Homo sapiens: one gene and its partner. The protein of the gene in region 1 interacts with the protein of each later gene in a pairwise test. Each region holds a gene or a part of one and is shown on either strand. Other genes may lie near its edges. The genes, in order: KRTAP5-3 and FUCA2.

What was found.
Region 2: the proteins of KRTAP5-3 (region 1) and FUCA2 interact in binary tests that used the Homo sapiens proteins (3 or more experiments, as listed by UniProt).

The regions. Positions count from the first base shown.
Region 1 is NC_000011.10:1,601,164-1,617,151, reverse strand, and holds KRTAP5-3 (keratin-associated protein 5-3), read left to right. Parts: upstream 1-8,688; 5' UTR 8,689-8,766; coding exon 8,767-9,483; 3' UTR 9,484-9,587; downstream 9,588-15,988. UniProt on the Homo sapiens protein: In the hair cortex, hair keratin intermediate filaments are embedded in an interfilamentous matrix, consisting of hair keratin-associated protein (KRTAP), which are essential for the formation of a rigid and resistant hair shaft through their extensive disulfide bond cross-linking with abundant cysteine residues of hair keratins.
Region 2 is NC_000006.12:143,490,061-143,506,805, reverse strand, and holds the end of FUCA2 (plasma alpha-L-fucosidase precursor), read left to right. Parts: exon of another isoform or gene 1-836; intron 837-1,348; exon of another isoform or gene 1,349-1,390; intron 1,391-2,553; coding exon 2,554-2,893; intron 2,894-4,240; coding exon 4,241-4,451; intron 4,452-4,683; coding exon 4,684-4,874; intron 4,875-9,308; coding exon 9,309-9,417; intron 9,418-10,958; coding exon 10,959-11,099; 3' UTR 11,100-11,994; downstream 11,995-16,745. UniProt on the Homo sapiens protein: Alpha-L-fucosidase is responsible for hydrolyzing the alpha-1,6-linked fucose joined to the reducing-end N-acetylglucosamine of the carbohydrate moieties of glycoproteins.

The DNA of each region.
Region 1 (15,988 bases):
GAGCCTAGAGATGTTGGCTGGTTGTGGAGTGGTCACCGAGGGAGCATCTTAGCATGAATCTCTGGTCAGAGTGATCGGGGAACCAGACTCAGTCTGGAAACAAGCAGGGGACACCTTCAGCTTACAGACAGCAGATTGTGGAGTTGCTCAACTTCCATAATTGCAGGGTCCAATTCTTCAGAATCATCTATGTATCTATCTATGTATCTATTTATCTATGTATCTATCGATCATCTAGGTATCTCTGTATCCATCTATGTAAGTATGTAAGTACCTATCTATGTATCTATGTATCCATCTATGTATGCATGTACGTATGTATCTATGTATCTATTTACGTATCTATCGATCATCTACGTATCTCTATATCCATCTATGTATGTATGTAAGTACCTATCTATGTATCCATCTATGTATGTATGTATCTATCTATGTATCTATGTATCCATCTATGTATGTATGTGTGTATGTATGTATGTCTGTATCTAGCTAGCTAGCTACGTATCTATGTATCCATGTATGTATCCATGTGTGTATCTATGTATCTATGTACCTATCTATCTATCTATCTATCTATCTATGTAGGGACAGAGCCAGCCCAGTGCAGAGCCCTGGCTTCCTTTCTGTGCCACCAGCCACTCCACCTCAGTCTCCATTGCTTAATTCTCCTCCTCCAGGCCCTGAGCACTGGGCGGTGCCAGGTTCAGCCGGGGGGTCTCTATCTCACCTGCGACCTCCTCCATGTCTCTCACAACACCTTCCCCTCTAGGTTCCACACTCACAGGCCCAGGTGCCTGCTTCTCATGGACATCTGGCCTTTCAAACTAAGCACATCCCAGACTGAACTCCTCCTCCTTCCCCTGGAACCAACGCCTTCCCAGCCTTCCCCATTGTAGTTCACAGCAGCTCCATCCTTCCCAGGGCTCAGGATAGAAGCCTGGGCATCCTCTTGACTCCTCTTCCACCCTCCACATCCAATCCAACAGCAAATCTCCAAGGTTCTACCTTGGAAAAGTATTTGGAATCTGATTCGCCAATTGCCTAATTGGTGATTTATCCAATGACCGCCTTCACTGCCACCACCCGATATTGACAGCACCTCGTGCATTCCAGCTACTCTCCCACACACTTTATAAACATGACTCCCTGAGTATCTGTGAGGTATGCACTCTTTTTTCAATTTAACTTTTTATATTCGGGTGATTGTAGATTCACCTGCAGTTACTCATAAGAAGTTACTCGTAAGAAGTTACTCGTAAGAAGACACAAAGGGGATCTCATGTACCCTTTCCCATGTCCCCGGTGACAGCATCTGGAATGCAGGTAACATAACAACACAGTGATATTGACCTTGGCACGGTCACAATACAGATCATTTCTCTAGCAAGGACCCCACGCGTTGCCCTGATGCAGCCCCCACATTTCCCTCCTGTTCTCCATTTCTGTAATTTTGTCATTTCGAGAATGCTCCATGAATGGAAACACACAGTGTGTAACCTTTTAAGACTGGCTTTTCCTACCCAGCATGATTCTCTGGAGATTCATCTGGGTCATCGAGCGTCTGTCATTCCTGCCATTTCATGGCTGAGACGTGTCCCCTGGCAGAGGTGAACCAGTGTGTTTCCCCTTCACCCATCAAGGGACATGTGGGTGTCTCCAGCATTTGGTGATCATGAATAAGCCTCCTATTAACATTTGTGGACAGGTTTTCCGTGTGCACATGTCTCTGGGATAAATGCCCAGGAGTGAGATTGCTGTGTTGAATGGCGGTTGTGTGGTTAGTTTTTTTCATAAGCTGCCAACCTATCTTCCAGAGTGGCTGTACCATTTTGCATTCCCACCATCAACATACGAGTGGCCCAGCTTCTCTGCCTTTTGCCAGCATTTGGTGTCGCTGCTATTTTTTTGTTAAGCCATTCTCATAGGGGCATCATGATATCGCATTACTGGTTAGTTTGTCTTTCCTAAAGTCTGAGGATGTCAAACTTCCTCTCACATCCTTATTTGCCACTGTACGTCCTCTTCAGAGAATTGTCTCTTCAAGTCTTTTGCCCATTTTTGGATCGGATTGTTTTTGTGTTTATGTATGATTTGCTGTTGTGTTTTGAGAGTTCTTTACATGGTCTAGATTTGTATATTCCAGTCCTTTGTCAGATATGTGGTTTGTAAATATTTTGGTTAGGGTGCAAAGTTATTTTATTTATTATTTATTTACTATTATTTTTAGACAGGTTCTCACTTTGTTGCCCAGGCTGGAGTGCAGTGGTGCAATAATGGCTCACCGTCCCCTTGATCTTCCAGGCTCAAGTGATCCTCCCAACTCAGCCTCCCAAGTAGCTGGGACCACAGGTGCACATCAGTATGCCTTTTTTTTTTTTTTTTTTGTAGAGATGGGGTCTCCCTAAGTTGCCTAGACTGGTCTCAAAATCCTGGACTCAAGTGATCCTCCCGCCTTGGCCTCTTACAGTGTTGAGATTACAGGCATGAGCCACCATGCCTGTAAGCCAAAATTCTTTTTAATATACTGCTGAATTCTATTATGAATAGTATATTTTTCTTTTCCTCTGTCACAGCAACTGGCTGCCTGGGTTATGGAATAAGAGGCAGAGCCCCAGGTGTCTTGTGGTGGTGGGAGGTGTGGGTTGACTCAGCTACTGAGATCTTGGTGTGGTTTGTTGCTGCAGCACAACCCAGGCCATCCTGACTGACACTGGGTGACCGAGGGGCTGGAAAAGAAAACATGCCGAGAAAGGCAGTTTCCACACGAATACACAAAAATCTATACTGCATTAATCAGGGTTCTCCAGAGACACAGAACCAGTGGGAGATTAGGTACATAGGTAGATTAGATAGATAGATAGATGCATACATACATAGATAATAGATACATAAATGGATAGATAGATACAAAGATAGATAATAGACATATAGATACATAGATGGATATATATAGAGATACATAGATGATAGATAGATACATAGACACATAGATACATACATAGGTAGATACATACATAAATAAATAGATGATAGGTAGATAGATAGCTACATAGACAGATACATAGTTAGATAGCTACATAGATAGATACATACTTACATAGATACACAGATAGATACATGGATACATAGATACAAAGATAGATACATAGATGGATAGATACATATATAGATACATAGATGATAGATACATGCATAGATAAATAGATACATAGCTACATAGTTACATAGATAGATAGATAGATAGATACATACATACATACATACACACAGAGAGAGATACACAGATACACAGATGATTATGAAGAATTGGCCCATGCGATTCTGGAGGCTGAGCAGCTCCATGATCTGCTGTCTGTAAGCTGAAGACCTAGGAAAGCCGGCGGGGTCATTCTGTTCAAGTCCAAAGGCCCGAGAACCAGGGAGCTGACGGTGTGAGTGTAAGTCCGAGGGCAGGAGACCGATGTGCCAGCTGGAGCGGTCAGGCAGAAAGGGACTTCCTCCACGTTTTGATCTATTCGGGCCCTCAGTGGATCAGAGGAAGCCACCCACATTGGGGAGGGCGTCTGCTTTCCTGAGTCCACTGATCCCAATGCTGGTCTCATCCAGAAACTGCCCTCACCGACCACCAAGAAATAACATTCAGCCAAATATCCGGGCACCCTGGGATCCAGCCAAATTGACACATAAAATTAACCATCACATATACCTGATTCAAGATTTTAAAACAGATGACAAAAGTTTTCAACTTTTACAGAAAAATATATCATGATCTCAGAGAAGTATTTCCTAAATAAGGCCCCAAATACTCTAATTCTAAAGGAAGAGGTGGGTGAATTGATAAGTTAAAATTAAACACTCAAGGATTCTCATTTAACAAGGGAAGGCCTCGCGAGAATGAAAAGATGAACCAAGGAGGATCTTGCAACATAAAAGCTGACCACACGATAGTTTGCTGAGTAAATGACGAGTAATGGGAGCAGCACACCAACATGGCACATGGATACATATGTAACAAACCTGCCCGTTGTGCACATGTACCCTAAAACTTAAAGTATAATAATAATAAAATAAAATAAAATAAAATAAAATAAAATAAAGCTGACCGTGGCTCAGCATTTGAAAACCCAAAGAGCTCACACCAATTAGCAAGCAAAGAAAACAACTAAACAGAGGAACCAACTCATAGACATCAGCAGGCATTTTATAAAAGAGGAAAGACAGGTCGGGCGCAGTGGCTCACACTTGTAATCCCAGCACTTTGGGAGGCCGAGGCGGGCAGATCACGAGGTCAGGAGATCGAGACCACGGTGAAACCCCGTCTCTACTAAAAATACAAAAAAAAAAAAAAAAAAATTAGCAGGGCGTGGTGGCGGGCGCCTATAGTCCCAGCTACTCAGAGAGGCTGAGGCAGGAGAATGGCGTGAACCCGGGAGGCGGAGCTTGCAGTGAGCCGAGATCGGGCCACTGCATCCAGCCTGGGTGACAGAGCGAGACTCCGTCTCAAAAAAAAAAAAAAAAGAAAGAAAGAAAAGAAAAGAGGAAAGACAAAGACTTGGTGGGTGCAGTTACCTTTGTTCCCACGGGCTCCATAGTCTGGTGATGGGGGTGGGGGCTGGAGTGAGCAGGCATTTCCCAGTCTTAGAACTCCAGCTTCAGCCTTCAGCCTTCTCCAATTGCCCACATGGCACAGGGGCTCTCTCCAGGGTCTTTCCCGTGCCTCAGCTGTCTATTGCAACAGCAACGGGTTTTTTGGTATTTGAGATGATCAAGTTGGTTCTAAAATTTAGCTGGAGAAGTAAAGGAATTGGAAACAAACAAAACAATCTTTAAAAAGAAGAATGAAGTTGGAGTCTCACAATACTTAACTTCAAAACCTCCCATAATGTCACAGTGACGCTGTGTTTGCATTAGGAAGCGGCATACAGACCTGCGGAGCGGGACACAGGAAGAAACTCGCCATCGTGTCGGCTGATTCTCATTAAAAACACCAGTGATTTCAGTGGGATAAGCACGGTTTGTTTGTTTGTTTGTTTGTTTATATCGAGACAGAGTCTCACTCTGTCACCCAGGCTGGAGCGCAGTGCTGCAGTCTCGGCTCACCGCAGCCTCTACCTCCCGGGTTAAAGCGATTCTCCTGCCTCAGTCCCCTGAGTAGCTGGGATTACAGGCGCCCCCCACCATGTCTGGCTAATTTTTGTATTTTTGGTAGAGACAGGGTTTTGCCATGTTGGCCAGGCTGGTCTTGCACTCCTGACCTCAGGTGATCTGCCCTCCTTGGCCTCCCAAAGTGCTGGGATTCCAGGCGTGAGCCACTGCGCCTGGCCAGGAAGGTCTTTTTATCAAATGCTGCTGAAACAATTGGATGAAAATGTGAAAAAATGGATCTCAACTCCTACCTCACATTACACGCAAAAATTAGCTTGAGATCCATCATAGAACTAAATATAGAAACTAAAACTCTAATGCTTCTAAAGGAAATGCTAGGAAAAAGGGTTTTCAAAGAGGTCACAAGAAAGCACTAGCTGTCAAAACAAATGTTAACGTGGACTTCAAAATCAAAAACATTTCCATATAAAAAGTTCAGATAACAATAAGGCAAGTCAAATACTAGAAAATTATATACAATATATATATTCTACATATATATATTATATACACACATATACACATGTATATGAAATATATATGTAAATATATATACGTACATATGGCAAAGCACTTCACATATTCATTCTTGATATAGAATTTATGAAGAGTTCCAACAACTCAATAACAAAAAGACAAAAAAAAATCACAATAAAATGGGCAAACAATTTTAGCAAAACTTTTTAACAAGAAAGATGTGCAAATGTCCAATAAGTGCAAGAAAGAATCCTTGCGAACATTAGTCATCAGAGAAACACAGGTCAAAATGCACACGAGATGCGATTTTACACCCATCCGATGCCTCACATTTGAAAAGCCGCTGGCTGGTACTGACAGGCCTGGGGCAGCGGACACTCTCAGGCATTGCTGGGGAGGGGGAAAGCAGCATGAGCATTTGGAAAGCTGTCTGTTTCTTAGCAAGTTAAGCATACACTACTCTATGGTCTAGCAAGGCCAGTCCTCAATATTTGACCAAAAAATTAAAACTAAAAACATGAATACGGAAGGACTGGAAGGCATGATTATGTGTTATTCATCATCGCCCCAAACTGTGAACGATTCAAATATGTATGAACGTGAGAACGGGGGAACGCAGTGGAGAATATTTTTACATGGAATAAGGGGGGCCCCACCCCTCATATTTTCTTATGCCCAATTTCTGTCTCCAAAGAAAAAAGAAGTAAAAACTAAATCCACAGGCAGACAGCCCGGTGCCACACCCTGGGCCTGGTAGTTAAAGATTGACCCCTGACCTAATCGGTTATATTATCTATAGATTCCAGACATTGTATGGAAAAGCATTGTGAAAATCCCTGTCCTGTCCTGTTCCGTTCTGATTGCCGGTGCATGCAGCCCCCAGTCACGTACCCCCTGCTTGCTCAATCGATCACGACCCTCTCACACAGACCCCCTTAGAGTTGTAAGCCCTTAAAAGGGACAGGAATTGCTCACTTGGGGAGCTTGGTTTTTGGAGACCTGAGTCTGCCAATGCTCCCAGCTGAATAAAGCCCTTTCCTTCTACAATTCAGTGTCTGAGGGGTTCTTGTCTGCGGCTCGCCCTGCTACAGAAACACTATGCGGTGATTACAAAAGAAGAAGAAGGCCAGGCGTGGTGGCTCATGCCTGTAATCCCAGCACATTGGGAGGCTGGGGCAGGTGGATCGCTTGAGCCCAGGAGGTCGAGGCTGCAGTGAGCCATGAGCGCACCACTCTGCACTCCAGCCTGGGTGACAGAGCAAGACCCTGTCTCAAAAAAAAAAAAAAAAAAAAAAAAAGAAGAAGAGCAAATCATTGACACACAGAATAACATCGTGAGGGAAAGAAACCAGAGTACATTTTTAATGATTTCATTTTTGCAACATTCAACAACAGGCACAACTGGTCAGCAGAGCTGTGCCTGGAGCGATGGGCAGGAAGGGAAGGCGGCGAAAGGGAAACTTCTGGGGGTGAAGCAGTTGGTCATGGTTGGAGTGATGGGCACACGAGTACATGTTTAGCGGAACTCATGGAATTGTACACTCAAAATATGTGCAGAGCCCAGGAGACCAAGGCTGCAGTGAGCTAGGATCACACCACTGCCCTCCAGCCCGGGCGACAGAATGCGACCCCGTCTCAAAAAAAAAAAAAAAAAAATGCAGCCCAAGCCTGGTGGCTCATGCCTGTAATCCCAACACTTTGGGAGGCCAAGGCAGGTGGATCACCTGAGGTCAGGGGTTCGAGACCAGCCTGGCGAACATAGTGAAACCCCGTCTCTACTAAAAATACAAAATTAGCTGGGTGTGGTGGTGGGTGCCTGTAATCCCAGCTACTTGGGAGGCTGAGGCAGGAGAATTGCTTGAACTCGGGAGGCAGAGGTTGTAGTGAGCTGAAATTGCATCACTGCACTCCAGCCTGGGTGACAGAGGGAGACTCAGAAAAAAAATTTTTTTTCACTGCATGTAAATTTTACCTTAATAAAAAATTAAAATTTGGCTGGGTGCAGTGGCTCACACCTGTAATCCCAGCACTTTGGGAGACTGAGGCGGGTGGTTCACCTGAGGTCAGGAGTTCGAAACCAGCCTGCCCAACATGGTGAAACTCTGTCTTCACTAAAAATACAAAAAAATTAGCCAGGCCTGGTGGTGGGCGCCTGTAATTCCAGCTACTGGGGAGGCTGAGGCAGGAAAATTGCTTGAACCCAGGAGGCAGAGATTGCAGTGAGCCGAGATTGCGTCACTGCACTTTAGCCCTGGTGACAAGAGCGATACTCCTTCTCAAAAAAAAAATATTAAAATTAATCTTTTAGAAAATAAAAGTGTGTTAGAGAGGTTGGCTAATCAAAATTTTTGTAGCCTTCAAGAAGAATAAACTTGAAGAATATCCATTGATTTGTAGAATTTTTACAAAGAATTAATAGAGGAAAACTCAAAAGCATTAGAAAGGGTCCTGTTCCTCTGTTCCCTCTGTGAGCCCAGCTTGCCTGAAGGGAACGTGGGTCTAATCCGTGTCTGGAGGAGTGAGCCAAACCGCAGGAGGAAGAGGTAAGAAAGACAAAGGAGAACCAGGGCCACACTCAAATCCATGCTCTTCAAAACTTTGTTTTACAGATTTGACAAAATATTTATACTTGAAGTTTTTAAGCGGTGGAACCTATAGACAGCCTTTCTTTCAGCTTATTTTTTTAATTTTTATTTTATTTTATTTTTTACCAAATGACCATCCTTGATATAAACACCAATGCCAGGGGGTGGAGGGTCTGCATCGCTGAGGAGAGCCCTGAGCACCAAGGACAATGGTCCACCCTTCGGCCAAGCAACCACCGCCTCCCAGGCTCCTGGGACACCCACTGGAGAGGGAGCCCAGTGTCTTCTAACAAAGGGAAACACCTATGAGGAAGAGGCCAAATTTAGAAACCAAGGAAAGGACAGCTTGGCTTGAGCTGATGGTGGCTCATGGGATTGTGGAGAGATTAAAAATAACACTTGTGCATGTGAAATAGCAGAAACAACAACAGAAGTATTCACGTGTTCAGTATAAACACCTGGGCAGGAATATAAAGAGCCCGGGCTCAGAGAACTCCACACCTGCACACCTCCCTCTCACCTGCTCCTCTACCTGCTCCACCCTCAACCCACCAGAACCATGGGCTGCTCTGGCTGCTCTGGAGGCTGTGGCTCCAGCTGTGGGGGCTGTGGCTCCAGCTGTGGGGGCTGTGGCTCCGGCTATGGGGGCTGTGGCTCCGGCTGCTGTGTACCTGTCTGCTGCTGCAAGCCCGTGTGCTGCTGTGTGCCAGCCTGTTCCTGCTCCAGCTGTGGCTCCTGTGGGGGCTCCAAGGGGGTCTGTGGCTCTTGTGGGGGCTGCAAGGGGGGCTGTGGCTCCTGTGGAGGCTCCAAGGGGGGCTGTGGCTCCAGCTGCTGTGTGCCCGTCTGCTGCTCCTCCAGCTGTGGCTCCTGTGGGGGTTCCAAGGGGGTCTGTGGATTTCGTGGGGGCTCCAAGGGGGGCTGCGGTTCTTGTGGCTGCTCCCAGTGCAGCTGCTATAAGCCCTGCTGCTGCTCCTCAGGCTGTGGGTCATCCTGCTGCCAGTCCAGCTGCTGCAAGCCCAGCTGCTCCCAGTCCAGCTGCTGTAAGCCCTGCTGTTCCCAGTCCAGCTGCTGTAAGCCCTGCTGCTGCTCCTCAGGCTGTGGGTCATCCTGCTGCCAGTCCAGCTGCTGCAAACCCTGCTGTTCCCAGTCCAGCTGCTGTAAGCCCTGCTGCTGCTCCTCAGGCTGTGGGTCATCCTGCTGCCAGTCCAGCTGCTGCAAGCCCTGCTCCTCCCAGTCCAGCTGCTGTGTCCCAATTTGCTGCCAGTGCAAGATCTGAGGCTCTGCCCACAAACCTCAGTGGGTCCTACAGATCCGGGCTCTCCAGGAATGATTGCAGCTGTGTCCTGAATTCCTGAAGCACGTCTCTGAATCTGTCCTCCTCTGGACTAAGGCAGCCTAGCGTCCAGGGCTCAGTACTCAGCCGCTCAGCCTCTGAGGTCATGAGGGCTTCTGGCATGCTGGGTCCTGCCCATCAACCCTCCCGGAATCCCGTCTTCCTTTCCTGACCCCACCACTTCAACCTTCTCAGGGCTTCAAGATCCCACATCCCTGGGCCCCTCCTGTGAGCCTGCTGGAAACACGCTGACACTGGAATCCTCCGACCTGCTGCCGCCTCTCCCCGGTCCCCGCAACCTCCTGGCTCCTCCCCGCTTCGTCTTCATCCTGCCTGAGCTGCCACCGCTCCGATTGCTTTTGGAGTTGACCTAGAGGACTCGGAATTATTGGAGACCCCAGGATCCTCTCCTGAGGAGGAGGGGCGCCCAGTCTCCTCTTCTACCTCCGACCTGGCCCTGTTTCTTTCCCCAGGGCTTCGCCTTGTAAGTGCCTAGGCTAGATCTTCTAAATAAATACGATCTGCACCTCCCACGAGTTTGCATTGTGATTCTTTTGTTTCAACTTCTGTGTGATTAGAGAAATGTACACTTTCCACAGAGTTGCACTCCCAGGCATTTGGGAACCCCCCGTACCCTGCTGTGTGAGTTTGCTAGGGCTGCTCCACAAACCGTGTGGCTTAAGCAACAGGAGTGGATTGTCTCACAGTCTGGAGTCCGGAATCCGCCATCGAGGTGCCTCAGGGCCGGGTCCTCCTGAGGCCTCCCTCCGTGGCTTACTGATGCCGCCATCCCTATATCCTCACGTACTCATCCCTCTGTGTGTGTCTGCGTCCTCATCTCTTTGCATAAGGACACAGATTAGACTAGGGCCCACCCTACTCCATTAGGTCCATGTTTGAACTAATCACCCCTGTAAAGACCTATCTTCAAATAAGGTGCCATTCTGAGATACTGCGTTGAGGACTCCAACATATGAACCAGGGGGCACAACTCAGCCGTGGCATCCACTTGGCTTGGGGCGTCTCCGTCTTTCCCATCTTCCAGGATACAGAATTGGGAGGCCCCTTGGGCTTCTCTCCCCCACAAGTCGCCAAATCCCTCAGCATCTCCTGGAAGGCTTCCTACAGACATCTATTTCCTGCCTCCTTGTGACACCTCCCTACACAGACTTCTGATTCAGGTGCCCACCTGTCCCTTCCCTGCTGCCTCTGTCAGCTGGGGCTGCCAGAACAAAACCCACAGAGTAAGCCTGGAAGACGGAACAACAGACACCATTTCTCCCAGTTCCGGAGGCTGGAGGGCCTAGACCAAAGTCCAGCATGTTCGACTCATGGGGAGGGAAGGCAGGAGCTGGCGGAGGAGGAGGTGGGCTGCAAGGCTGGAGCCCCCAGACCCAGGCGTCTGTAACAGCAGAGCGCTGGAGGCTGCTCGGGAAGCCACCGTCTCACAGGATGGTAGGCAGTGAGTGCCTGGCGGAACTGCGACAAGAAAGTGAAAACTCAACAACACGGAAGTTTCAGAAATTGCTTCTGAGTTTCTGTTTCGGTAGTAAGGTTGACTAGACACTATTCACAACCCTGAAACTTCTAAAAGGACATGGTGAAACCCCGTCTCCACTAAAAATACAAAAATTAGCCAGGCATGGTGGTGGGCGCCTGTATCCCAGCTACTTGGGAGGCTGACGAAAGAGAATTGCTTGAACCCAGGAGGCGGAGGTTGCAGCGAGCCTAGATCGCACCACTGCATTCCAGCCTGGGCGACAGAGCTAGACTCTTTCTCTAAATAAATAAATAAATAAATACATAAGTAAGTAAATAAATAAAGCTTTAAAGTGCTATGTTTAAAGCATATATATTTTTTTTAAGTCACTGAGCTGTTGAAAAACTAAATAATCCTCAGAGCCAACAAGCAAGAGAGAGCTGGACCCACAGAGGAAGGTGAAAGTCAAAAACGGCCTCCACCCCATGGCTGGACCAGAAAGAGGCCCTGTCTGTTTTCTTCCACCTGTGTTATTGGAAAAAAATATTTGACAAGGAAACATACACCAAACCCAGCTCTTTTGTTTAAAAGCCAATTGCAAAAACACAGAACGAGTGACCTGGTTTAATGGTGGCTAAGAACGATAGAAAAAGGGCCTGGTCTATCTGAGTTAAATTTGAGCTCAGGATGAGGCTAGGGTGTGGTGTTGCTGCCGAAATCCACTCTGTGGTCTGAGGGTGGATTCGTAGCCACACGGTGTCCAACTCAGGGGTGAATGAGCCCCTCCCCATCAGCCCATGCTAGTTCCTTTAATGGACTTTTTTTTCAGAGCAGTTTTAGGTTCACAGCAAAATTGAGAGGAGTGGGCCACAACATCCCCCGTGCTCTACAATGAGAGCACTTCCTCAGAGCCCAAGACAGTAGGCCACTCTCTGGGGGTCCCCAGGGGCTCAGGGTGTGGCTGGCCTGTCCCCAGCTCAGGAGAGACCAGGAGTTGTCTAACAGTTCCTTCATTGGAAGTCTCTGTGGATGCCTCCCACGGACCTGAATGTTGAGGGCCCATGATTTCTACAGTACATTGAGGAGCCGGGATGCAGGGCCCCTATTTCCTCTATGTGTGCCCTGGACACCCCAGGCACAGGGGACAGGCCTGGCCCTGCAACCCCACCAGGGTCCTGACACCAGGCTTGGCCTGGCCTTGTGATGAGCAAGAGAAGAGGCAGGTCCAGAGACACCTCCTGCACGGGATCGCCTGCTTCCGACCCCCATGACAGGCAGTGGCCAGCATGGTGTGGAAGGGGCCAGGATGGCACACGGCAGGCTGCCCTGTAGCCCCAGATGGCTCCTGGCCTCAGGAAATTAATATCCACTGGAAAACTCATCACTTGGAGGCTGCCAGAGGGAAGGGTGAGTGTCACGTTCCTGCAGCCATGGCCAGCCAGCAGCATGCCCTGTGGCCTCTGGCCCAACCTGTGGGACAGGGACCCCAGACAGGGCACAAGTCCCAGTCCCAGAGGGTCCTGGCCTGATGCTAACCCAAGCCCTGTCAAGGGAAGGGCATCAGGGGCGCCATGGGCACCCAGCAGCAGCCAGGAGGATCACACAGGGGACTGAGCCTTCTGTGGCAGTGGCCGGACCCAGAACTTAGCCAAAAGCAGGGCAAGCCTCCTGGATCAGAGCGGGTGCTGCTGCCTGTGCATGCCCAGCAAGGCTGAGCCAGTGATGCTACCAGGGTCCATGAGGCAAGGGTGGGGCAGGAGCAGGCTGACCAGCCGCCAACCTCGTCCACTCCAGGAGGCAGGGATGGCCAAGCTCCCACGCCCTCGTGGCCGCCACCTGACCACCGATGGGGCAGAGGCCTGAGGCCAAGCAGTCAGTGCTGGGGCCCTGCTTCCAAGGTCTACAAACTGCTCCAGTCCGGAGGGCCAAAGATAATTGGGCACGTGAGGGCCCAGGAGGTCAGTTCCCTACGTCTGCCATCCTTGGCAGGTGCATTTCATGGTCAGAAAAAGTCAAGAAAGGTGACACCTCTCAGGTGTTATTATGAAGGACTCTCCCAAGACACATCTTTTTTTACATTTATTTTTATTGTACATATTCATGGTGGACAACATGGTGCTGTGGTAAACATGTACACTACTGAAATGATGGCTGCAATTAATATCTCCAACACCTTCCATGGTTCCTTTTTGTATGTGTGTGTATAAGTGTGTGTGCATGGGTGTGTTTGGATAAGTGTGTGTATGAGTGTGTATGCATGTGTATGAGTGTGTGTGTTTGTATGATTATGTGTGTATGAGTGTGTGTAAGGTGTGTTTTTAATTGTGTGTGAGACTGTGTGTATGTATGTATGTGTATGAGGGTGAGTGTGTGTGTGTATGTGTGTGTATGAGGGTAAGTATGTGTGTACGATGTTAGTGTGTGTGTATGTGTGTGTGGTAGGAGCACCTGGAGTCTTCTCTCAGCACACCTGCCACACACAACACCTGACTGTCACCTGTAGTCCTTGCACTGTGCACTGGACTGCTCGGCTCCCTCTCCTACACAACCGCAAGCCCTTGACCTCCTCCTCCCCCTTTCCTTCTTCCTCCAGACCCTGGTAACTACTGTTCTATTCTATGTTTCTATGTATTTGACTTTTTCAAAATGTGGAATATATGCATACATCTATACGTGTATATATGGAATATTCTTCAGCTTTCAAAAGAAGGAGATCTGGTTACTTACAACAACATGTACAAATCTGGAGGACATTACACAGGGTGAAAAGAGGCAGACACAGAAAGACAGACATCACACGCTCTCCCTCACACATGGAGTCTACAGGAGTGAAACTCACAGAAGCACAGAGTGCAAGCATGGGAACCAGAGGCAGGGAAAGGGGAAATGAGGAGGTGCTGGCCCAGGGGTCCAAAGCTTCAGTTCTTCAAGATAAATAAGGCTTGGAGACCCAATGCATAGCAAAGTGACCACAGGTAACAACACGGTGTTTATTATGTACTTAAAACGTACTGAGAGGGTAGATCCTACATGTTCTCACCACCAAGAAAAGAGAGAGAGAGAGAGAGAGCTATGTGAAGTGGCAGATGTCTTAATTATCTTGACTGTGGTGATTATTTCACAATGTAGACATATATGAGATCATCGAATTGTATGTCTTAAATATACACAATTAAAAAACAATAAAAGCCACCCCCAGTGCCAGGCCCCACAGGCACCCCCACCCAACCCTCCTACTTGCACATACAATGTATAAAAAATAGATGCGCATACACAATTGGGTATTGCTACCAATTCGGATTTTATTATCCACATTTCTTTGCAACTTAATTCTTTTCACTAGAACTTGTATCATGGTTGCCTCTCCTAGGAAGTAGATCTGGGTATAAGTCTATGTTTCTTTACGCGCATGCGTATTCATATATGTGGAGTTTTTCCACAAGTAGGATCACACATACTGGACTCACTTTTCACTGTCATTTGCTTTTTGTTGATTCCTACACACCTTCCCCACTCCACCCAGCCACTGTCCTACGTACCCCAGGCACACACTCAACATATGTGTAAAAGATATTTTTATTGCTTGCTACTAAAATAGGATCCTACAGGGCTCATTTCTCTGCATCTACATTTCACACTAGCCAGAGCCTTGAGGAAATTTCTCCAAGTCCACTGGTACAGGTGTAATCTTATTTTTTAGTGGGTATGACTTTTAGTATTAATTTTCAATTTGCTAGGATTCTTTTTCTGACACTGTAAATAATAGATCATACACATATATGTATACACGAATATGTTTACGTTTAATCTTTTTTCAGTAATTTCAAGACTAATTGTATTGATATGACCTAATTTTATTAGATATTGTTTTCAAAAAAACTGTAATAAATTGTATCCCCAGAACAATGTATGAGTACCTTTTCCCCCAATTTCACTAGCAATAGGTGTTATTATTCTTGTTAATTTTGGTCAGTCTAGTAGATATAAAATGTTGCAGGTAGCCACTAACTGAGTCCACTAGCGTGGGCAGAAAAGGAATTTACCAAGACAGTTGTAGGTAAGGAAAGGCAGATTTATTAGAGAATGTAGGAAAATACGTTGCAAGAATGGAAAGGGCAGGTCAGCAAGGGAGGAGCTGGCTGCCAGGAGACAAAGGCTTGCTGGGGATTTTATAGGATGGTGCTTGTGCCGGAGAGGGTTACATGCAGTGCTGATAATGCCAAGGTTTCAGTGAGCTAATTTGCATTTTTCTATCAACTGAGGTCATAAGTTGAGTGCAGGAAGATTGTGAGTTATGTGAGTTATTTGCATAGGAGGGCTAAGTCCTGCACCAGGAAGAAAGGCAGACTTGTAGTTCATCTGCCTTCTCTTTTTGCTTTCCCTTGGTCCAACCAACCTGGCTCCTTTTCCATCATTAGGACTCCACAGAAAAGATCCCGTGTATCTGACTACCAGTGAGTCTGATTTACTTTTTATATTTTTAATTGCACACTTCCATTTGTTTATCAGAGAATCATCTTTTTAAAAACTTGGTTGTTTGTATTCTACTTGTCAATTTGTAAGAGCTACTAATGTTTTATAGATTTTTTTTTTGAGACAGGGTCTCGCTCGGTTGTTGGAGTGCAGTGGCACAATGTCAGCTTACTACAACCTCTGCCTCCTTGGTTCAAGCAATTCTTCCACCTCAGCCTCCCAAGTAGCTGTGATTACAGGCATGCACCACCGTGCCCAGCTAGTTTTTATATTTTTAGTAGAGATGAGGTTTCACCATGTTGGCCTGGCTGGTCTTGAACTCTTGGCCTCATGTGATCCACCTGCCTTGGGCTCCCAAATTGCTGGGATTATAGGCATGAGCCATCGTGCTCGGCCAGTGTTTTATAGATTATAGAACTAATAAATGAATCCAGCAAGTTTTCAGAATACAGGACCAATATATAAAAATCAATTGTATTTCTACTCACTTGCAAC
Region 2 (16,745 bases), on another chromosome or scaffold:
TCTTAGCTGGCCAAATGGTGCAAATAGTGGATGAACTGATAGTGATGAAAGTGATGAAAGTGACCCAGATCACCTGGAGGGAAAAGGATTGTGGAACTGTAATGGTTTCCAGAAAAATCAGAGGTGGTAGAAGAATATCTAAACCCCCACACATTTAAAATCCATTCTATTTTAATAGAATGGATTCCACCCATTACCACTCCAGTATTTGTAAGGCCAGGGAAGCATTAACAAATTGTTTTTGTTCCAACGGCTTGTTCATTCATTAGTTTCTTTTGCATGATCATCTTTGCCTTGGTATAAAAAAATTTGCACTGGATGTGGTCGCTCATGTCTGTAATCCCAAAATTTTGGGAGGCCGAGGAAGGAGGATCATTTGAGCCCAGGGGTTCAAGACCAGCCTGGGCAACATAGTGAGACCCTGTCTCTACAAAAACAAACAAACAAACAAAAACTAAAAAATTAGCGTAGTGGTATGTCTCTGTAGTCCCAGCTACTTGGGAGGCTTAGGTTGGAGGACTGCTTGAGGCTGCAGTGAGCGGAGATAGGCTTACTACACTCCAGTCTAGGTGGCGGAGGGAGATCCTGTCTCAAAAAAAAAAAAAAAAAAAAACGGGAAACTTTGCCTTATTGTTTTCTCCAGGGATGGGATGGGAATAGGAGAGGAGAACCAACACAAAAAATCTGGAATGATCATAGGATATTTTTCCCTTTGGCCACATTCTGGTAGCTTCATGATTTTCTCCTGTAGATATTTATCCTGCTGAGATGAATGTCTATCAAGTGTATTTGCTTGAGAACATGCTGATTTCCTGATGTCTAGGAACTTTCCCAAGCTGTATGGCACAAAACATTACATAGTGAGTTTATTTAATAAAAATTGTTAATCAAACTGTGAGGAGAGATGATGTAGCCCACATGTATACATTTTCTGGGACCCATGTTGTCAGATGTTTTCATTGCTCATGGAAAATGCATACTAAGCTCAGGAAGGAACGTCGCAGTGTAAGCTTATGGTGGTGATATTCAAATGAAGACTCAAGTGGTTTTAGTACTGTCTGACATTAGGGCCTGTCAAGTTGAGTAACTTTGAGTATGACTTTAGATATCAACACTGCTCTGAAGCTTACCACAGAAATGATAGGAACAAGAGTGAGCTGTTTTAAAAAGCTTATTAAAATGAATCTAAGGCTAGGTGCAGTGGCTCACATCTATAATTCCAACACTTTGGGAGGCCAAGGAAGGAGGATTGCTTGAGGCCAGGAGTTTGAGACTGGCCTAGGCAGCAAAGTGAGACCCTGTCTCTGAAAAAATAGACAAAATTAGCTGGGCGTGGTGGAGTACACACCTGTAGTCCTAGCTACTTGGTAGGCTGAGGTGGGAGCATCACTTGAGCCCAGGAGGTCGAGGATGCAGTGAGCGAAGTTCGCACCACTGAACTCCAGCCTGGGTGACAGAGCCAGAACCTGTCTCAAAAAAAAAAAAAAAAAAAAAAAAATCGAAAGTATGAGTCATTCTTAGACTTGTTCTAATTTACCAAGAGTAAAATGTTTCACCAAATGTACCTTATAAATGTCTATTCTCAAAGATTCTTTTAGATTTTAGTGGAATAGTAACAATGTATTTAAGTCTCTAGGCACTGATGAAATTTTTGAGGCTTTCATATTTATTATGTTTTAAGTATTTCAGTTTATATATCTCTTCTAACATTTTTATATGGAACAATCAGTAATCTAAATACAAATTCCTCTTAAAAACGAACCACTTCTAAGTGTTTGTATAAAGGTATACATTGTTTTTCTTATCTATGTAGTTGGTAGACTATTCACTTTTGGGTAATTTTATTAAAGAGGAACATCCAAGCTTATGATTTTATAGTAGGATGAGATTACACGTGGTGAGTATATTTTAAAGTATAGAACTATTGGGAATAGTAGGGGTTTTTTTTTGCCCCTCTGGTTAAATAAATAATCAGGCTAAAAGAGATTTGCTATACGTGGATCACCAGTGTTCTAAGAATCACACTATAATAAAATAAACAATCCTAAAACTAAGCAGTAGACTTCAAGCTTTGGTTTAGAAGACACTAAGAATCTTGCAGGAGTGCATCTCAGGATCTTCATAATAAATAGTGGTAGTCATCATTTAGCATGGTACATGTATATGTTCCCATCTTAGTTGTGAGCTGCTATTGTTGATTGTTTATACCTTGTGCTAGCAGTTGGCTGGAGACATAGCAGGGAGCACTGCAGACATGATGCAATCCCTTAAGGACCTTAAAATCTAAGAGGGAAAATACTGGAGATAGATCAGACCGTACAGTGATATACCCTGAAAGTTGCTTTTAAAAACCTGTCTCACCTTGTTTAAATTCTCACTTCTCATATAAAAGCACAATATATGCTATGAAAAAATGGCCATAAAACAGTCATTTGTAGGAGCAGGTATTTATATATCGCATGTACTATGTGATTTGTTTGGGCATTTGTGTGGGTTGAAATTTACTAAAATAAAGTTGACATGCTTACAAGGGTTTTCACTATAATTTTCTAGGCTTTACCTTGTGGGGGTCAGAATATTCGTGGAACTGGAATGCCATAGATGAGGGGCCCAAGAGGGACATTGTCAAGGAACTTGAGGTAGCCATTAGGAACAGAACTGACCTGCGTTTTGGACTGTACTATTCCCTTTTTGAATGGTTTCATCCGCTCTTCCTTGAGGATGAATCCAGTTCATTCCATAAGCGGCAATTTCCAGTTTCTAAGACATTGCCAGAGCTCTATGAGTTAGTGAACAACTATCAGCCTGAGGTTCTGTGGTCGGATGGTGACGGAGGAGCACCGGATCAATACTGGAACAGCACAGGCTTCTTGGCCTGGTTATATAATGAAAGGTGTGTATGCTATGAGATTGCTGCAGTTACCCTCCATATTCCTAATATATTTCTAACATTTTAATTCCTTCACCTCTTGAAATATTTCATTTTAAGTCATTGGTGGTATGGGGGGAGAAAATCATTGTAAATAATACTTATTAGATATATCACTATTTACTCAACATAATCAAGGGTAAATAAATCAGGAGTAAAATCCAACTCAATGGTCTGATTTTGAGATCAGACTAAAAATCACAGGATCAAGAACTTTGAAGGTGTTAATTTTGTGGGTCCCCCCTTTTTCTCTCCTACCCTGGTCCTTTATGGCCTCTATTCTGGGACAACTCTGTTTCTTCATCACTATTTCTGACTATTTGCTTCTGAATCCCGCAGACTGCTTCTTTTTATCCTCTTACCTTTTGGTCATCTTTGCTGCCCAGCCAATGTCACCCTTGTTTGTCTCCTCTTTTCCTTCATCGCAGCCTTTTCACTTTCTCCAGTTTTTTCCTATTGCTTCCTGGTATGTTCAAGGCTGCCCTATTAGAACAGGGAGTTCTGATTAAACTCCTCCATTAGGCTTAAACTATATGGACCAAATTTGCATGTACACTAGAAAGCACTGGGTATTGTGCTACGAAGTCAGGCAACCTTCTGCTTGCACTTCCTGGGCCCACAAAGGGCACAAATACAAATATTCTGAAGAACTCTTGATACTTAAAACAGCAGTGTGTCCAGGTACTCCTTCCAAGGGAAAAAACTGGGAGCCATCACTTCAATTTGTGACTCAAAACTGTTCCCTCTATGTGGCGTGTATTTCCCTCTTAAATATGCCACCTGCTATGATAAGCAATATTGTGGGGATATTTCACATGATATCAACAGTCAAATTTTCTGAGATTTTTCAATATTAGGCACAATGGTAAGAGAAAAAGAAAGGCTAGACTACATGTATGAGATCATTGAATCATTGAAAAGAAAAGTGTCTTGGGTATAAATTCAGTTTTGGCTACCATTTACAATATGGAAGGGAGCTTAAAATATTCATATAATACTCTTATGAGTGCTATATGTGCTGGGTACCAGGCTAATGTTTTACATAACTTATTTTTGTTCTAATCATAGATGAGGAAATTCATTATTCAGAGGAGTCAGGTAATTTGCTCTAGGTCTGGGAGCTAGAAAGTGACAAAGCCAGAACTCCAATCAACTCAGGTCTGTTTGACTTCAAAACCATGGGCTTTCCACTGTACTATGCCATGGTCCCTTTTCAGAATTGTATTTCAATTACATGTCTTTTCAGTGACATTTCTTTTTGTATAAAAAGCTTATACCTTTTGTTTTAAAAAATTGTATGTTTCATTTCAGCCCAGTTCGGGGCACAGTAGTCACCAATGATCGTTGGGGAGCTGGTAGCATCTGTAAGCATGGTGGCTTCTATACCTGCAGTGATCGTTATAACCCAGGACATCTTTTGCCACATAAATGGGAAAACTGCATGACAATAGACAAACTGTCCTGGGGCTATAGGAGGGAAGCTGGAATCTCTGACTATCTTACAATTGAAGAATTGGTGAAGGTACAGTGAAATGTCTGGTGGCTATTAACATAATATTCTTAATAGTGTGGTCATGTAGGAATTATTTCTTCTATGGCTCAATGGCCTATAAATATAGGACATTGTTCTATCCTGTGTTTGTTCTTCTAGGCAGTGACTATATATACATGTATAAATATATAAATGCAACATATTAGCACATTAAAGATGGAATTATTTTATTTATCTAAAAACATTATTCTTAATTTTTTAGCAACTTGTAGAGACAGTTTCATGTGGAGGAAATCTTTTGATGAATATTGGGCCCACACTAGATGGCACCATTTCTGTAGTTTTTGAGGAGCGACTGAGGCAAATGGGGTCCTGGCTAAAAGTCAATGGAGAAGCTATTTATGAAACCCATACCTGGCGATCCCAGAATGACACTGTCACCCCAGATGTGTGGTAAGTCATTCTTGTTACCAAGTACTCTTTTATAAAGGAAGAGATTTAAAATTTATCAGACATATAAAGAAGAGTAGGATAAAAAGAGAAATTGGATGAATTCCTACATATACAAAGCACTTTCCAAACTTTGCTTACTCTAATATAAAGAGAAGGGGAAGAATTTGCATGTTTTGAAACATTTATTGTTTATCAGATTGAGCTTACATCATTTCTAGGTATCTCCCAGTAGTGGACAAATTTTGGCTGAAAGTACTCAGCTCTTAGAAAAATTGTAAGCTGTTCAGACCAATGAAAAATGCTGAATGGTTAGTCTAAAACGGAGATTACTGTTTAACCAGTTCGGTAAATTCTGACTTTTGCAGATGTTGCATCCCATGAAATTAGCAAACAAGAGGTACCCAATGGCAGAGAAAATGTTAGATTAAAAATGAATCAAAATAGGGAGGGTTCAGGGAAGATGCTTCTCTCTGAGCTTGAGGAGGTTCTGTGTGTCAATGAGTACCCGAATCAGACTCCACAAATATGACAGTTTCTGATATGGTTTCTTAACATATATAAAATAAGATGAGTATTGGTGAAGTTCTAAAAATTCGCTTTCAGTTGCCACCTGAGTACTGTCTGATCAAATAGGAACCGAAAGATTAGACTAATTGTTCTTCAATCTACTTGACTTATGACTTAAAACATTAACAACCCATTGAATAAAATGGAGTAAGGCAATCTGGACAGAGCAAATAATTGTGGAATTTTAAAATGTTGATCTGGGAGAAGCCATAATGAGAACTCAATACCAATCTCTCATGTGACAGAGAATAGTAGAAATCTGGTTTTGGAATTTGCTTCTTACTTTTGAATACTTACATTTGAATATGAGGGTATCTGATCTGGGACTTCACAATCATTAACCATTATTCTATTGTGTTTATTTCAAGAAATAAACATAAAAGCTAAATATTTAATGTGGCTTATAAAACTGTGAGTCTGGCTCCTACCAACTTCCCTGCCACTGAGTGGTCCTGCTCTCCCTCCTCACCATAGGAGCCTTCTTCCCCCAGGGTTCATCATGCCCACCTTCTTGCAGTCACCTACAGACTCCCAGGTCAACCCTTAAAATCCTTTGAGAGAGCCCTGGCTTGCTGTCCCTGTCCCCAGAACTACTCTTCACATAATTCTTAGAGATTTAAATTTTTATTCACAGTTCTAATTACCTGCACCTCCTGTCTTCTAGGGGTCTTGTCCGCTTGACCTTTGTTACCTGTTCCTTTGCATTATCAATATACAAGGTCATATTGGTAATGCAAAGTCGAACTTCTTACTCAACACTTCCACTTGGATGCATAGCATCTTAGACCTGTACGTCCACAACTGAAGCCCTGAGTTTTAAATTTTTGCTGTAGACTAGCTCCACCCACGGTCTTCTCCATCTCAGTTAATGGCAGCTTTATCCTTTAGGTGGTTGTCAGGCCAAAAACCTTGGTGTCCTTAACTTCCCTTTCTTTTATAAACATACTTTAGACTTTGCATTACCAATAACTGAACCCCTTCCACGGCTCCAGTTTGAAGGATTCTGCCATCTACCTACCACTTCTTATATTTTGGCTCACTCTGCATGGCACTTCGGCTTCCAAAGGGATCTATAATCCAGTGATCATACTATCTTTTAATCCTATCATCTTTTCTCTGTCTTTTTCCTTATCCGGGACAGATTCTGTGGCCCATCACTGTAACTAATCTATTGCATACACCCAACTCCTGAACCCTTGCTCCCTCTGCCATACTCACTTGACGGAACATCAACTTTAAATACAGATCTACTTATTCCATGCCTGCTTCTGGACAGCTAACTGTTAACTATGGAAACACACACACACACACACGCACCCAGACACATACAATGTAAAATTATCTCACTTTTGGCTTTAAGGTCAACCCTTGTGTCCTGATCCCATTGCAAATCATCCACCCAAGGATTGTTATAGCAATTCTCCCCTTTAACTCAATTTCACTTGCATTTCTAGTGATCTTCCCATTTCTCTCCTTTCCTTTGTAGTAAAACGTCTTGAAAGGATTGTTTTCACTTGCTATCTCTAATTCCTTGCTACAGTTTTTCTCTTGAACCCCCTCTGGTCGAGCTTCCACCCCCACACTCCAGAATTGCTCTTCTCAAGGCCCACAATAACATCTGCCTTGCCAGTTCCAGTGATGAGTCCCCAGTGCTCATTTTCTTAACTTACTGGCAGTGTCTGCCTCAGTTTATCACTGTCTCTCCTGGTGTTTGTCGTACCTTTTGGCTCTTCCTTCTTAGTTAGTTCCTTTGCTGATTTCATCTCATTTTTCCAACCTCTAAATCTTGAAGTGCCCTGAGGTTTAGTCTTTGGACTTCCATTCTTCTCTATCTTTTTTTGAGTGCACTGGTGCGATCTTGGCTCACGGCAACCTCCACCTCCCAGGTTCAAGTGATTCTCCTGCCTCAGCCTCCTGAGTAGCTGGGATTACAGGTGTCCGCCACCAAGCCTGGCTAATTTTTTTGTATTTTTAGTAGAGATGGGGTTTCACCATGTTTGGCCAGGCTGGTCTCGAACTCCTGACCTCAGGTGACCCGCTTGCCTTGGCCTCCCAAAGTGCTGGGATTACAGGCGTGAGCCACTGCGTTTATCTTAATGTCCCAGGTGATCTTATCCATTTTCATGGCTTTAAATGCCATATTGATGATCTCCACATTTCTATTTCCAGTGCAGACCTCTTTCCGAACTCCAGCCTCAATAACTTCCTACTCAGCATTTCCACTTAGATGCATAGCATCTTAGACCTGTACATCCAAAACTGAAATCCTGAGTTTTAAAATTTTGCTATCAACTAGCTCCACCCATGGTCTTTCCCATCTCAGTTAACGGCAGCTTCATCCTTTAGGTGGTTGTCAAGCCCAAAACCTTGAAGCCCTTAGTTTCCCCTTCTTTTATAGTCACAGCCAACCCATTAGCAGATATCATCCTCTGCATCTTTGAAATATATTCAGAATCTGTCCACTTCTTATCCTCTCTGTGGCAACCCTCATCCTTTTAGTTTCCATTGTCTCGCCCCTGCCTGGATTATTTCAGTAGCTTCTTAATAGGTCTCTATTTCTACCCTTTAACCTATTCACCACAAAGCAATCAGAGTATACTTTTAAATAATAATGCCACTCCCATGGTCACATTTCTCCAATGGCTTCCAGTCTCAGAGAGAAGGCCAGGTCCCATAGATGCTTACAAGGGCCTATAAAATCTGGCTCCTATCGCCTCTCTGATCTTATCTGCCATCACCCTCCCCCACTTCCTCTCCTTCAGGCACTCTGCCTTGCTAGTGCATCAACAGGCAGAGCACACTCTTGCACTGGGGCTCCTGCACTTGTCATTCTGTCTGGAAGGTTTTCCCCAGACGCTCCCGTGGTGCTCTTATGGCGCTCCCATGGTTCTCTTCCATGCCACCTCTAAGAAGTCTTCCCTGACTATTCTGTTTAAAATAACACTCCCAGGCCCCTCCTTTCCTACCTAGCATGCCCTGTCCTTCTAACCTGGCTTGTTTTCTCCATAGCATTTAATCAACACCTGACATATTTGTTGATTCTAATTTCTTCCACTAGAATGTAAGCCCCATGAGGACAAGGACTTTGTTCAATGTTGTATATAGCTCTAAAACAGTGTCTAGCATTTTAAGATTTCAATAAGTATTTCTTGAGTAATTGAATGAATAAATGAATGAAATCCACTTTTTTTTTTGTCCACAGCATACTTCCCTTACCTTCTTCTTTGCTCCCATTCATCCTTTAAGTCTCAGATTAAATGTTATGTTCCTGGAGAGGCTTCTTTCTGATGTTCTAATCTAAAGAGATCCTTTTGTTATAATCTCTCAATTTCCTTTTCTTTCATGGTGCTTATCAGAACTCACACTTTCATATTATTTGTGTGATTGTTTAGTGTCTGCTTTCCCCACTCTAGTCTAAGCTCCATAAGAACAAGGACTATGTGTGTTTTGTTTTTTATTGTAACTCTAACACTGAGCACAGTACTAGGCACAGAATTGACACATGCATATCTTGTCTTGTTGAATGAATGAATGAATATAAAAATTTGAATAATACATGAAAAGCCATGAAGCTCTTGCATCCTGTCCCCTTAGATCATCTCCCTCCCCTTTTCAGCTCCATGAGAGCAGTCTGATGAAGAGGAATGCTAGCTCAGGAAAATCTTTGTCTTCCAAGAACTTCCTTTTGGTCTTGGGGGAGGAAGGTGTTTTTTTATACCACCATGAGGCTATTTTTCCTTCCCTTCTATTAGTGGTGACATTGTGGAAGTATCTGTAAAATAATTCCAGATTGTTCCTGATCCATAAATAGTGAGAAACATGGGATGTAACTTGCTACTATGCTCTTTATTTTTTTCTTTTAACCAGGTACACATCCAAGCCTAAAGAAAAATTAGTCTATGCCATTTTTCTTAAATGGCCCACATCAGGACAGCTGTTCCTTGGCCATCCCAAAGCTATTCTGGGGGCAACAGAGGTAAGAGGGAATTTTACCTTATTCCTTTAAATTGCTGATTAGAACATCTTGATGCAAACATTAACTTTTAAGGGGAGCCTTATAACTGTTTCACTTATACTTCATAAAAGGAATTGTAAATGAGCTCCAGCCAAGCATTGTGGCTCACACTGTAATTCCAGCACTTTGGGAGGCTAAGGCAGGAGGATGTCTTGAGGCCAGAAGTTTGAGACTAGCCTGGGCAACATAGCAAGACCCCTGTCTACAAAAATTTTTTTTAAAGTTAGCTGAGCATGGTGGCACGCACCTGTAGTCCTAGTTACTCAGGAGGCTGAGGCAGGAGGATTGCTTGAGCCCAGTAGGTCAAGACTACAGTAAGCTATGACTGCACCACTTCAGCCTGTCTCTGAAAAAATAAAATAAAATATAATAAAATAAAATGAATTTCACCAATGACAGTGTTTGGTCAAAATCTTTGAAACTTTTTGTTTCCCAGAAAACTAAGCTGATAAAACAGCTGCAGTATCTCTATGCATATCACTGTAAAATAGACATTATTCTTCACAGTCATTTTACGTTGTTCAAGTTCACTGCATGCATCCAAAATGATTCTTCTCATAAAACTAGAATTCGGATGCTTTCCCTGACACCCCACCCCAGAACATATCTGAATACAAGATGTCATGACTCTACTATTTTATGTTTATAAAACATTTTGGAGAAAGTTAGAGATTAATCTAACTGTTGAAACCACCAGATCTGGCATTGAGTTCATTCTGATATATTTTATAACTTATTTTTTTAAATAAATTATCCCTTTGGAGGTGAACTGTCCATATGGGGGTTCTCCTTGCATCACTTTTCTGCATTTCATTTCTAATACATGTGGTTGATGAGGCAGAAAGAAGATGAGTTCAAATCTAATGTTTAATTACAGCTTAGTAGCCCAGGTATGATACTGATTATGTTTTTATTTTATCTATGTTCTTTTTGGTGCCAATTAACATTATTATTTAAAAGCTCATGGGCTTTGTTTTCATATTGATCCACCTGAGAAGCAAAGTTTTTGGTTCAAAATAACCCTAGAATATGTAGGGAACTTATTTGAATTTGCTTAGTATAGTAAGACTAAGAATATAAAACAATTACAGTAATAATTGATCAAATTTATGTATTATTGATTAGTGGAGGTTATTAGAAAATCTGGGGGAGGAACGCTGAGTAGATACTTGGGCAGACTCTGGTTTCAGAGCCACTTTCTGCTCCTGATCCTCTCTTTAGCTTTTTCTCCACTCTGAGACTCCATTCAGTCTTGAAAATTCTCCTTCCCCAACCCCTGCACACTTCTATTTCCCTCTTGAGAGTAAAATAGAAGCAAGAATATAGAGGCAAGATACATACACTCAATTGGATGAAGAGTGATTGTGAATCACTAAATAAAGGTAAAAATGAACCTCTTGTCTACAATTTTGTTTGAACTACTAATCACTCCTTCCCAATAGAAAGTGGGTGAGATAAAGAGATAAATTTGGAGACATTTGCATGTATGTTTTTAATTTCAGGTGAAACTACTGGGCCATGGACAGCCACTTAACTGGATTTCTTTGGAGCAAAATGGCATTATGGTAGAACTGCCACAGCTAACCATTCATCAGATGCCGTGTAAATGGGGCTGGGCTCTAGCCCTGACTAATGTGATCTAAAGTGCAGCAGAGTGGCTGATGCTGCAAGTTATGTCTAAGGCTAGGAACTATCAGGTGTCTATAATTGTAGCACATGGAGAAAGCAAATGTAAAACTGGATAAGAAAATTATTTTGGCAGTTCAGCCCTTTCCCTTTTTCCCACTAAATTTTTTCTTAAATTACCCATGTAACCATTTTAACTCTCCAGTGCACTTTGCCATTAAAGTCTCTTCACATTGATTTGTTTCCATGTGTGACTCAGAGGTGAGAATTTTTTCACATTATAGTAGCAAGGAATTGGTGGTATTATGGACCGAACTGAAAATTTTATGTTGAAGCCATATCCCCCATGATTATATAGTTATGCATCACTTAATATGGGGATATTTTCTGGGAAATGCATTGCTAGTCAATTTTTTTTTGTGCCAACATCATAGAGTGTATTTACAAAATCCTAGATGGCATAGCCTACTACACACCTAATGTGTATGGTATAGACTGTTGCTCCTAGGCTACAGACATATACAGCATGTTACTGAATACTGTAGGCAATAGTAACAGTGGTATTTGTATATCGAAACATATGGAAACATAGAGAAGGTACAGTAAAAATACTGTAAAATAAATGGTGCACCTGTATAGGGCACTTACCACGAATGGAGCTTACAGGACTGGAAGTTGCTCTGGGTGAGTCAGTGAGTGAATGTGAAGGCCTAGGACATTATTGAACACTGCCAGACTTTATAAATACTGTATGCTTAGGCTACACTACATTTATAAAAAAAAGTTTTTCTTTCTTCAATTATAAATTAACATAAGTGTACTGTAACTTTACAAACGTTTTAATTTTTAAAACCTTTTTGGCTCTTTTGTAATAACACTTAGCTTAAAACATAAACTCATTGTGCAAATGTACAAAAATATTTTCTTTCTTCATATTCTTATTCTATAAGCTTTTTTCTATTTTTAAAATTTTTAACTTTTTACTTTTACAGAAACACACACATTAGCCTAGGCCTACACGGGGTCAGGATCATCAATGTCACTGTCTTCCATCTCCACATCTTGTCCTGCTTAGAAGGTTTTCAGGGGCAATAATACCCACGGAGCTGTCATCTCCTGTAACAATGCCTTCTTCTCACAGACCTCCTGAAGGGCCTGCCTTATGCTGTTTCACAGTTAACTTTTTTTTAAGTAGAAGTACACTCTAAAATAATGACAAAACATATAGCACAGTAATGCATAAACCAGTAACCTAGCCATTTATTAAGTACTATATACCTTACATCATTTTATGTGCTAGATTTTTATATGACTGGCAGCACAGGTTTGTTTATACCAGCATCACCATAAACAACATGATTATCGTGTTGTGCTACCTTATGATGGCTATGATGTCACTAGGTGATAGGAATTTTTAGCTCCATTATAATCGTATGGCACCACCAACATATATGCAGTCCATTATTGACTGAAAAGCTGTTATGTGGTACATGGCTATATTTCGAAACAGGGCCTTTAAAGAGGTAACTAAGGTTAAGTGAGGTCATAAGGGTGGGGCCCTAAAGCCAATAGGATTGATGTCCTTATAAGAAGGGGAAGACACACCAGGGATACAAGTGCACAGAGGAAAGGCCATATAAAGACAGTGAGAAGGTGCCATCTGCAAGTCAAGGAGAGAAGTCTTTGAAGAAACCAAATCTGCTGATACCTTGATCTTGGATTTTCAGCCTCCAACACTGTGAGAAAATAAATTTCTGTTGTTTAACCTGAGTAGGGGTTGTGTTTTCTATTCCCATTTGCTGCAAGGTATGTTTACCAAAGGCTGTTTGAGTTTGTGACTGTAGTGGGTCAAATAGTGTTCCCCAGTAATTTATGTCCACCTGCAACCTCAGAATGTATTCTCACTTGGAAATCATGTCTTTGCAGATGTAATAGGTAAGTATTGAGATAAGCTGATATTGGATATGAGTAGGTTCTAAATCCAATGACAGTATCCTTATAAATGACAGAAAAGGACACAGAGACAGAAGGCCATGTGACGACTAGGCAGAGATTGGAGAGGGAGCATGGCCCTGCTGACGCCTTGATTTTGGATTTCTAGCCACCGGAAGTGTGAGAGAATAAATTTCTCATTTTAAGCCACTTGTGGAGTGGTAATTTGTTACAACTGCTCTAGGAAACAAATACAGTTACCAAACAAACTGATTATGCCAGGTGAACTTTTTATGATGATAATATGAGCCAAGGACGCAAGCGTGAAGAGTTCTAGTTTCTGTTAAAGCCAAGTTAAATACTTTGGAAAGACTAGATAAAAGTTTGTTGACTTTAAAAATTTAAAAAAAAAAAAAAGCTATTGGTTAACTGTGGGCAAAACTGCTCTAAAAGATTGGGGGAAAATATAGTAAAAATCTTCAAGAATTCTGCATCTGTGGTTCACACCTATGTAATGTAATGCATGTAATTTGTATAAGAAAGATAATTAGATTACAAGCTCCAGCTTGTAATCCCAGCTACTTGAGAGGCTGAGGTGGGAGGATCCTTGAGGCCAGGAATTCAAGAAAGACAATTAGAGAACATCTATCAGCAGACCTATATGGGAAGGCAGCTATGCTGTACCACTATATCACCAACAGCCCGACTGAGTAGATGTACACTAAAAAGTTAGAAAAAACCTGGATCCTATAGTAAATAAGTGGTAAATATAGAATATTTAAAGTTAAAATGTCTATATATGTACTTTTTATGACACCCTGATTTAAATAACTTTTTAGATTAACCAAACAACTAAAGGTTTCTGATGAGAGGGCTCCTGCTATACTATTAGAAGGCAGATTTGTACTATCTAAGAACAATTAACTTTATTTTTGTATTTATTCATTTTTTTGAGACAGAGTCTCACTCTGTCGCCCAGGCTGGAGTGCAGTGGCATGATCTCAGCTCACTGCAACCTCCGCCTCCCAGGTTCAAGCGATTCTCCGGCCTCGGCCTCCCAAGTAGCTTTAAATACATGTGGTTTTTACCTTGTCATCTCTTCCACTGCCACAGTTATACAGACGCATATGATTCCAGGAGATAATTTTCAGCTGATCAAATTTGTATCCTTACAAGGCTACACCTGTTTAGTCTCAAATTTTCCCTGGATGAAATCCTGGGTTAATTTTGTTGGAAGAGATGTGTGCCCATTACACACTCATTCCCAAATTTACCAAAATGCTATTTTTCATTTGCCCCATTAAAAGTGAGAATATCATATTTTGTCAAATTTTGAAAAGAAGCATATTCCCTCCTCTCCACCACTACTTTTTTTTTTTTTTCCCAGACAGGGTCTCACTCTGTCACCCAGGCTAGAGTGCAGTGGTGCAATCATAGCTCACTGCATGCAGCCTTGACTTACTCGGCTCAAGTGATTCTCTCACCTCATCCCTACAAGTAGCTGGGACTACGGACACATGCCACCATGCGTGGCTAATTTTTTTGTAGAGACAAGATTTCACCATGTTGCCCAGGCTGGACCATTACCTTTTTTTTTTTTTTTTTTAAAGTTAATTACAGCATTTGAGGAAGAGGATCTAATTCCACACAAAATGGAAGACTCTAAAATGTACCCATTAAACTGCTAAAAAATAAATTGAGTGGTGAGAATACCACATAAGCCCAGTTTAGATTCTGAGTGCTGTCACCCTGTGATTACAATTATACAGACTCTTCCAAGCTTATAGCTAGAGCTCCTGGAAGCTATTTTATACACTGATGCAAGGACAAAAAAACCACAACTCAGGAAGGAATTAAGTCCTGAATTATTGGCTTCATCACATCCACCCTCTCCACCCCAAAACAGCACAAAAGAAACAGTGACCACACCCTGTAGATCTTTTTGTGTAAAAGAGGTAATGAAGACCTGGGATGGGAACAAGTCATGAAGATCTGTCTTTAAAAGGTCCCTTTCAGGTAAATTTGTACACACCATCAAGCAACAAGCCTCTCATCAGTTAGGGTTAGGAAACCAAGGTTCAATTCTCAGGAAATCACAATTTCATTCATTTACTCAATATGAATTTACAAGGTGCCTATATATTATCAGCTTCCACTTGCAGCCATTTCTAGATAAAAAAGAAACCTGGCATCTCTACAGGGGCCACCAAGTTCCCCAAATCTACCACTGAAGGGACCTTTTTGGAACTGGGTTTCTTCTGTACCCCTGAAAGGGTAACACCTTAAAGCTGAATCATCTTTAACCTGGAGGTCCAATATGACATTTAGCAATACTTGCATCCCAGCCATACAACATTAAAAGATACACTAAATTGTGAAGGTATCTATGCTGCAAAATAATTTAAACAATTCTACAGCATTCATTTATGCTTGAAATTCCAGTCCTAGACCAAGCTTGTGGCCACTAGCATAGATGTTCTTGCCACCCAGGAGAGCTGACAGTGTCAGTATGAAACCTGGCTTTAGGGTTTAAGTGTATCCTAAACCTATCAGGCTGGAGTTGTTCACTTTAGTGGAGAAGTGGGCTTTAGGATCGATCTGATACTTGGCTGCTATTCTGAAGCGAGTGTTCCTGTTTCTTGCTGTCCCAGCGAGACTGACAGCAGTCTCCAACTTCTTGCTCACCTTCTGCTAATTGGAGCTGCCAAACTCTGTCCCGTCATTCACATTAGTGTGAAGCTGGAATTCATCAGTCTTGTGGCCAACCGCAAAGTTGCTCTGGGTCACTCAGGACTTTGTGGTCTCAAAATTGACCTGGTAGCTGGCCAGCCAATCCTCATAACCCAGCACTTAAGAGTGCCTCGGACTGAAGGCTCAGCAATGTCCAAATCCACGTCGCAGCCCAGGTTAATGTGCTCCCACTTGTATCCTGTCTTGATTTTAGCACTTTTCCCCCAGTGTTAGGCGAGAAGGATGAATGGAGGGTCAGCTTCAGTCCACATGCTAACTGGTCTTCCATAGTAATCTCGGTGCCTAGTGTGTTGTCAGTGTTCCATTTCTTTGCAAATGTCAGGCCATATTCGGTCTATCTGTACTTGGTTTCCAGACTGCCTGTCACTTTGGTGGTCTCAGTGTTGGCTGAGCCTGAGCTTGTAAATTCCAATCCATTCTCAGATTTTGTTTTCAAATCAGGTTTTATTAAGCCAAATCCATATCCCTTGGTGAAGACATGCTTGGCAGATTTGCCAAGATTAGCATATGTGAGTGGCACAGCCATCTTCTGCTCAGAGACAATGCCAGTGGGCTCAGAGGTGTCTATGGTGAGGGCTATGGCTCCACTACCTATTTTTAAAAACATTCTAGACACAAACTCCCTGGCAGTGAGCTTCAGGCCTAGCCAGGCCTTAGAAGAGATGTCATAATTTATTTTCTACCTTCTACTGTTCAGCTACATGTTACGCTGGAGGAACATAAAACAATGTTACTGAAAATATATGTCAACATACTAATGATATATAATGATTTATTTACTTTTGCCCTAATTACCCTTCTAAATGAAGAATTACAGATGTATTACTAGAGATAATGAATTATTTCTTTTTCAGAAAGTAAAGCTATTTGCTTTTTACTAAATGAACAAGTTAACAACAACAAAAAAGCACCAAGTACACGACCAATTAAAATGAAACTTAAACTAGCATGCTCTCTCTTCCGAAATAATAACAAAAATG